Homo sapiens: one gene and its partner. The protein of the gene in region 1 interacts with the protein of each later gene in a pairwise test. Each region holds a gene or a part of one and is shown on either strand. Other genes may lie near its edges.

Region 1 (3,773 bases):
GATAGGGGCCCCTATTATTAACCCCGTTTCACAGATGGGGTAACTGAGGCCTCAAGTAGACAGGGTCAGTCGGTGACAGAGCCAGTCATCGAATCAGGATGGGCTCACTTCAAATCCTGTGCTCTCAAACCTTTTCCAGCCCCATCACCAGTCCCAGCCCAAAGTCTCTTGTGTGGCCTTGTCACATTGCTTCACCTCAGCGGGCCTAAGGTAGGGACAATAAAGGCCCATTGGGACTGGGGGAAGGGGTGATAAGATAAAAAATAGGAGAGCACTGTCAAGGCAGAAGGGACAGGGCTGGCCAAGGAAAGGGGGATAGGAGGGGACCGGAGGCTGCAGCCATACAGGACACAGTTTGTCCCTTGGTTTCACCAGTGTCACTTTCTCGTCTCTGCTGCTCAGACTCCTGGGCTGGGCTGGGGCTGGCTGCAGGGAGCCCCCCTTGCAGTAGCGTTTCTCAGGCTGGCCCTTTACCAAGGACCACAGTGTCCATGCTGTCTTGGATCCCTAGGCTGGCACAGAAACAGGGGACCCAGGTGGCCCTGAGCACTCCTCAGAGCAAAGGTGCTCTGGAAGCAGACTGGACAGAGTGGGCATGGAATGGGGCCAGGAGGGTCTGTTAGGAAGGTTCAGCCACCCTGTGAAGCTGGCACAGATAACAGCACTGCTCTGTTGTCCCTCGGAGCCTCTGAGTAACCCTGATGGCACTTCCTAAGGCAGCAGGACATGTGGACTGACCAGCATCAAACTGTTGACATAGAAGACCATTTCTATTACCAAAGGGAGTGTACCCCATTCTGCTGCCAAGGGAGCAAACCCATGGCCTTACCACCCAGAAAGAGCCCATCCTCCACCTCCCATCCCCCTCCTGCATACATACTTCATTACATGTTTCCCTTTCATTCTGAAGCATCATTGATGACCAGCTGCCTGTCAGACACTAAGATAGGCAGTGGGAATGAAGAGATGGATCTTGTGTCATGCATGGCATCACGGAGCTCTGGGTTCTGTACGGAGGGTGGGACAGACAGGTAGACAAGCAAATAATTATGATTATAGCAGATGACTAAGGTGTTGTCGGGAGCTTCAGGAAAGGAAGAACTAACTCTTGGGGAGGTTCTCAGGAAGGATTTCCCTGGAAAGTAGCCATGGGACTTGCGTCTTAAATGGTGAGTAAAAGCTTTCTGAGCAGGGGAGTAGGAAAAGGGCTTTCTATGCAGAGGAGCACTCAGCGCTGGCAGGAAATTGGAATCACCCAAGGAGATTATTAAATATTAAATATTGATATGAAGTATTGATGCCCAATTTCATCTCCAGAAATTCTGATGTATTGGTCTAGGGTGTTGCCTGGTCATTGGGATTTTTACAAGCTCCTCAAGTGATCTTAATGTGCAGGCAAGGTTGAAGCCGCTGGTCTAAGTGGGGTCTGGTCTACGATAAGAAAGTGACTTTGAGCCATCGATTTGGGAGACAGGCTCTGGGTGGATGTGTGTGTGTGCACACATATGTATGTATGTGGATGACTAAAAGTGCATGCTCTCCTCTCCTTTCCCAGCTTCCTCTCCAGCACAGCAACTTGTGTTCGTATGCACACACATGCATACTCTCTCTCATGGGCACATGCATACCCACACACACACTCGTGTACATTTCCAGAAAATGGAATTACATTTCAGATAGATTCAGATTCCAACGGCAGTCTTCTAAACACTTTTATGCAAGCAGCCATTCAAGGAGACCCTCAGCAAAATATAAATGACGAGGAGCTGCCCTCATGGGGCCCTGTGAAAGCACTTTGCAGTCCAGCCTTGGGTTTGTGGTCACAGAGTCACCTGTGGATGTTTGTAGCACACTCTCCTTGTCTTGTCTGCTCTGGGTCACCAGGCACAGGCCATAAAGGGATGAGGGGGCCCTCTCCAGGGACCCGCAAGATCTTCCTGGGTATGTCTGCATGAAGCCCCACGTGTGCACACCCATCTTCATGTGTGTGTGTGCCAGCCTCCTGCTCTCTGCAGAACAAAACCAGAAGGAATGGCTCTGGGAGTTGGAGATCTCAGCTCACAGGCCAAGCTTTGCAAGACTCTCCAAAGACTGCCCACAGACTGTGCTGCTTCCTGGGTCTGGCCTGAGACTATCCCAGAAGAGAGGGTTAAATTCTGGAGGTGAGGTTTTGAGCAAGTGTTCATCCCCCCACACTATGCTCCTTCCTGTCTCCATGGCCACATCCTTCAAGGCTCTGTGCTGTTCTCTTTTTTTCTGGATTTCTCCACCTCCACCAAGTTCCCCTTTCTCACAGCTAGTGGAGGCATGAGTAGGCAGGTCCCAGGGGCTGGGAACTGGGTAGCATTGCCATGTGCAGGGACTGTGTTGGGAGCTGCAGGTACAGAGCTCCTCTGTGCTCAAGAGCTTGCCGGTGAGCCTGGACGGAGGCATAGGTGCAGCTAATTAGGATAAGACAGGGGCCGCGCTGTGGTCAGCCGTGGGAAGCCGGCGAGGGGACTGGAGTTGGGGCTACACTTGCCTCCCTCCTATGCTGCTTCCTGAGCCACGAAGTGGTCATTGCCAGCATCCCAGGCAACAAACAGCAAGACTCAGACATCTCCAAGGAAACCCTTTGAGTGGATCTGTACCGTTGTTCTCGTCTTGCTCTCTTGCTGCCCTGCCACCTTCACAGCTGCTTTCTGTTTCCTGGTTCCAGGAAGACAGCGGGGCACAGGGTCCCTGCTTTGTGAGGAGCAGCTGGCTTCTCCCTTTGCCCCCAGGTTTTGCCCTCCCACATGTCTCCCTTCTGGTGACCCGGACCCCAGACAAACTATGCCTGCCTCCCTGAAGCCAGGCATCCTGAGGAACTTGATAGACAAACAATGACAGTGTTTTCCAGAACTGTGGGTACGTGTCTAATCTCAGATGGTACTATGAATTCCTGGAGATCAAAGTTTGGATCTAATTCAACCCCTGATCCTCGAAACGGCTTTCTTGCAAAGTGTATATATTGGTTTCTTTGCTGAATGAATGAATAAAACATGGAAAATGTGGTAATTCACTCATTTTTGTTTTCTTCCTTCCACAAATAACTCCCAAGCATCTAATTTGTTCAAGACCTGGGGAAAACAGGACCCAGGCCAGGTGATCTTTTATATGGCTTCGGAGAGGCTTGAAGGGAGAGGGGCTTAGAGCCGAGAGAAGCCTGGCCTTGGACCTTTTTGCTCTTTATGTGGCCGAGTCTTTGAGAACTGAGCGAAGAGGACAGCATCACAGCACACGTGCTGGCACACAGGCACTGAATGAACAGTTACTGAATGTGTAGATGAGTGAATGAATGCCGCCAAGCCTCCTTACAGCCCTGCCTCGGACATCACTAATCAACAGTGGCTCTTTTTCTCCAGGGGCTCCTACACTGCCTGAATTCCGCTCCAGACAATGCTCCAAGCAGTTACTACTAATGGATCGGAGAGATGAGCTCCCTCTGCCGCCCTGGTCCCGTGGCCTCCCTGGAGTGGGCCAGCCTCCTCGGGCCACCCCAGCATGGCGTGTTTGAGGTGATGTCAGGAGCTTCAACTTCACTGTTGCTCACGGGCCATGTGGCTGCCTCCTGACTGGCCTCTCTGTCAATGGTCTGTGACTTCCAACCCTGCCTCTGCCATGGCTGATAGGGGTTTATTTCCAAACTTCCTCCCTGGGCCCATTGCCTCCAGACTACAGCCCAGGCTCCTTAGCTGACCATCATGATGGTCTTGTGTGCCCTCCAGGTCCACAACATCTCCCTGTCGCCA
Region 2 (3,826 bases), on another chromosome or scaffold:
ATTCAACATAGTGTTGGAAGTTCTGGCCAGGGCAATCAGGCAAGAGAAAGAAATAAAGGGTATTCAATTAGGAAAAGAGGAAGTCAAATTGTCCCTGTTTGCAGATGACATGATTGTATATCTAGAAAACCCCATCGTCTCAGCCCAAAATCTCCTTAAGCTGATAAACAACTTCAGCAAAGTATCAGGATACAAAATCAATGTGCAAAAATCACAAATATTCTTATACACCAATAACAGACAAACAGAGAGCCAAATCATGAGTGAACTCCCATTCACAATTGCTTCAAAGACAATAAAATACCTAGGAATTCAACTTACAAGGGATGTGAAGGACCTCTTCAAGGAGAATTACAAACCACTGCTCAATGAAATAAAAGAAGATACAAACAAATGGAACAACATTCCATGCTCATGGGTAGGAAGAATCAATATCATGAAAATGGCCATACTGCCCAAGGTAATTTATAGATTCAGTGCCATCGCCATCAAGCTACCAATGACTTTCTTCACAGAACTGGAAAAAACTACTTTAAAGTTCATATGGAACCAAAAAAGAGCCCGCATTGCCAAGTCAATCCTAAGCCAAAAGAACAAAGCCGGAGGCATCATGCTACCTGACTTCAAACTATACTACAAGGCTACAGTAACCAAAACAGCATGGTACTGGTACCAAAACAGAGATATTGATCAATGGAGCAGAACAGAGCCCTGAGAAAGAATGCCACATATCTACAACCATCTGATCTTTGACAAACCTGACAAAAACAAGCAGTGGGGAAAGGATTCCCTATTTAATAAATGGTGCTGGGAAAACTGGCTAGCCATATATAGAAAGCTGAAACTGGATCCCTTCCTTACACCTTATACAAAAATTAATTCAAGATGGATTAAAGACTTACATGTTAGACCTAAAACCATAAAAACCCTAGAAGAAAACCTAGGCAATATCATTCAATACAGAGGCATGGGCAAGGACTTCATGTCTAAAACACCAAAAGCAATGGCAACAAAAGCCAAAATTGACAAATGGGATCTAATGAAACTAAAGAGCTTCTGCACAGCAAAAGAAACTACCATCAGAGTGAACAGGCAACCGACAGAATGGGAGAAAATTTTTGCAACCTACTCATCTGACAAAGGGCTAATATCCAGAATCTACAATGATCTCAAACAAATTTACAAGAAAAAAACACAACCCCATCAACAAGTGGGGGAAGGATATGAACAGACACTTCTCAAAAGACATTTATGCAGCCAATAGACACATGAAAAAATGTTCATCATCACTGGCCATCAAAGAAATGCAAATCAAAACCACAATGAGATACCATCTCACGCCAGTTAGAATGGCGATCATTAAAAAGTCAGGAAACAACAGGTGCTGGAGAGGATGTGGAGAAAACAGGAACACTTTTACACTGTTGGTGGGACTGTAAACTAGTTCAACCATTGTGGAAGTCAGTGTGGTGATTCCTCAGGGATCTAGAACTAGAAATACCATTTGACCCAGCCATCCCATTACTGGGTATATACCCAAAGGATTATAAATCATCCTGCTATAAACACACATGCACACTTATGTTTATTGCAGCACTATTCACAATAGCAAAGACTTGGAACCAACCCAAATGTCCAATAATGATAGACTGGATTAAGAAAATGTGGCACATATACACCATGGAATGCTATGCAGCCATAAAAAATGATGAGTTCATGTCCTTTGTAGAGACATGGATGAAGCTGGAAACCATCATTCTCAGCAAACTATGGCAAGGACAAAAAACCAAACACTGTATGTTCTCACTCGTAGGTGGGAATTGAACAATGAGAACACATGGACACAGGAAGGGGAATATCACACACTGGGGCCTGTTTTGGGGTGGGAGGAGTGGGGAGGGATAGCATTAGGAGATATACCGAATGTTAAATGACGAGTTAATGGGTGCAGCACACCAACATGGCATAGGTATACATATGTAACAAACCTGCACGTTGTGTACATGTACCCTAAAACTTAAAGTATAAAAAAAAAAATTCAAAAACCTCAGTGGCATCTAATGAGAAGCATTTATTGCTCACAAGACTGGATAGTGAGTTCTGCTGATACTGACTGGACTCACTCTGGTCTGGCTATGGTCTGAGGTAGCCTGGCCCTGGGGGCGCGATGGAGGCTGACTCAGCTCTCCCCACACCTGTCTCATGTTCCAGTCAGGTAGCCACTGGCCAAGAAGCCAAGCTAGGAACCAGGGTATCTGACTCCTGAGCTAAACTCTAACCCTCTACAATACTGCCTCCCAAATATAACACCAAGTGCTAGGTACATATCATCCACAGTTTTCAGACTTCTGCCCAAACTGGGATTCTTTTTAGTGTGAAGAGACCTGGCCTGTGGGGCTGACCCTGGTGTGGCTGTGAGGCAGACACAAAGGGACATTTACATCCAGTCCTGAAGATTACAGTCCAGCCCTGAAGCAACAACTAGGAAACTATTCCAAAAGGAGGGGATGGGGCTGAGTGTGGGGTTCTATTCTCTTCATAACTTTAACTAGAACTCAAATTGTGTACCTTGGTAGCATCCAATCATAAATTTATTTTGTCGTATTTGTGATAGAAAGGAACAAGTTTATCCACAAATTTATTTATTTATTTATTTATTTATTTATTTATTTGAGACAGGGTCTGACTCTACGACCCAAGCTGGAGGGCAGTGGTGCAATCTCAGCTCACTGCAAACTCTGCCTCCCAGGCTCAAGCCATCCTCCCGCCTCTGTCTCCTGAGTAGCTGGAACTACAGGCACACGCCACCACACCCAGCTAGTTTTTGTATTTTTTGTAGAGATGGGTTTTCACCATGTTTCCCAAGCTGGTCTCAAACTCCTCAAAAGAGTTACCAAGCAGGACTCTGCAACCAATAATCCTTGTGTGAAGAGGATATTTGCTCTTTTCCCTGTTTTTCTTTCTTGGTACAGATGTGTGACCTCTTTTTGAAAGGTGATAGTGACTTTGGTGTATTTTATTTGGTGGTAATGGTCATAGCCCCATTAATCACATTTCTTCCCATGAGAAAGAAAAACCACTACATGGTCATGCTAAGGATTTCAGTCCCTGGGGTGAGGATGGTCTTGAATATCTCCTACATTCATAACTCCTCCACACATCTCAGTAGGTCACTGAGCACATCAATGGACATGCCAGTTATTAAAATACTTCACGAATACTATGATCATTTACCAGTATGAGTTATTCTCTGGAGCTTCTAATACTTCAATAGTACTGCATGGACTCAGTTGAGAGTTAATTCAAAATCTCAGATTATCCAATTCTGTTTCTTTCCTTCCAGGCACCACCTACCTATGATGCCGTGGTACAGATGGAGTACCTTGACATGGTGGTGAATGAAACACTCAGATTATTCCCAGTTGCTATTAGACTTGAGAGGACTTGCAAGAAAGATGTTGAAATCAATGGGGTATTCATTCCCAAAGGGTCAATGGTGGTGATTCCAACTTATGCTCTTCACCATGACCCAAAGTACTGGACAGAGCCTGAGGAGTTCCGCCCTGAAAGGTACAAGTCTCCAGGGAAATGGAGCTCACCCTGACCCAGGCTGGTTCAAGCATATTCTGCCTCTCTTAATCTACATGACAATCGTGTGGTTGTACAATCATTTGCTTGTAAGTCTTTTTATCACAAAAAAGTGATAATTATCAAACTTTACAAACCACAGACTAGAAAAAACGAAACTACATCCATCCACAGTCCCAGCACAAGACAAAGATAATCAATTATGTCCCTGTGGGCATTTTTCTACGCCTATATAGAT

The links.
Region 2: the proteins of ATOH8 (region 1) and CYP3A5 interact in a two-hybrid assay, tested with the Homo sapiens proteins (one large-scale study listed by BioGRID and IntAct).

What each region holds. Positions count from the first base shown.
Region 1 is NC_000002.12:85,788,341-85,792,113, forward strand, and holds the end of ATOH8 (transcription factor ATOH8), read left to right. Parts: 3' UTR 1-3,043; downstream 3,044-3,773. UniProt on the Homo sapiens protein: Transcription factor that binds a palindromic (canonical) core consensus DNA sequence 5'-CANNTG- 3' known as an E-box element, possibly as a heterodimer with other bHLH proteins.
Region 2 is NC_000007.14:99,652,297-99,656,122, reverse strand, and holds part of CYP3A5 (cytochrome P450 3A5), read left to right. Parts: intron 1-3,343; coding exon 3,344-3,570; intron 3,571-3,826. UniProt on the Homo sapiens protein: A cytochrome P450 monooxygenase involved in the metabolism of steroid hormones and vitamins.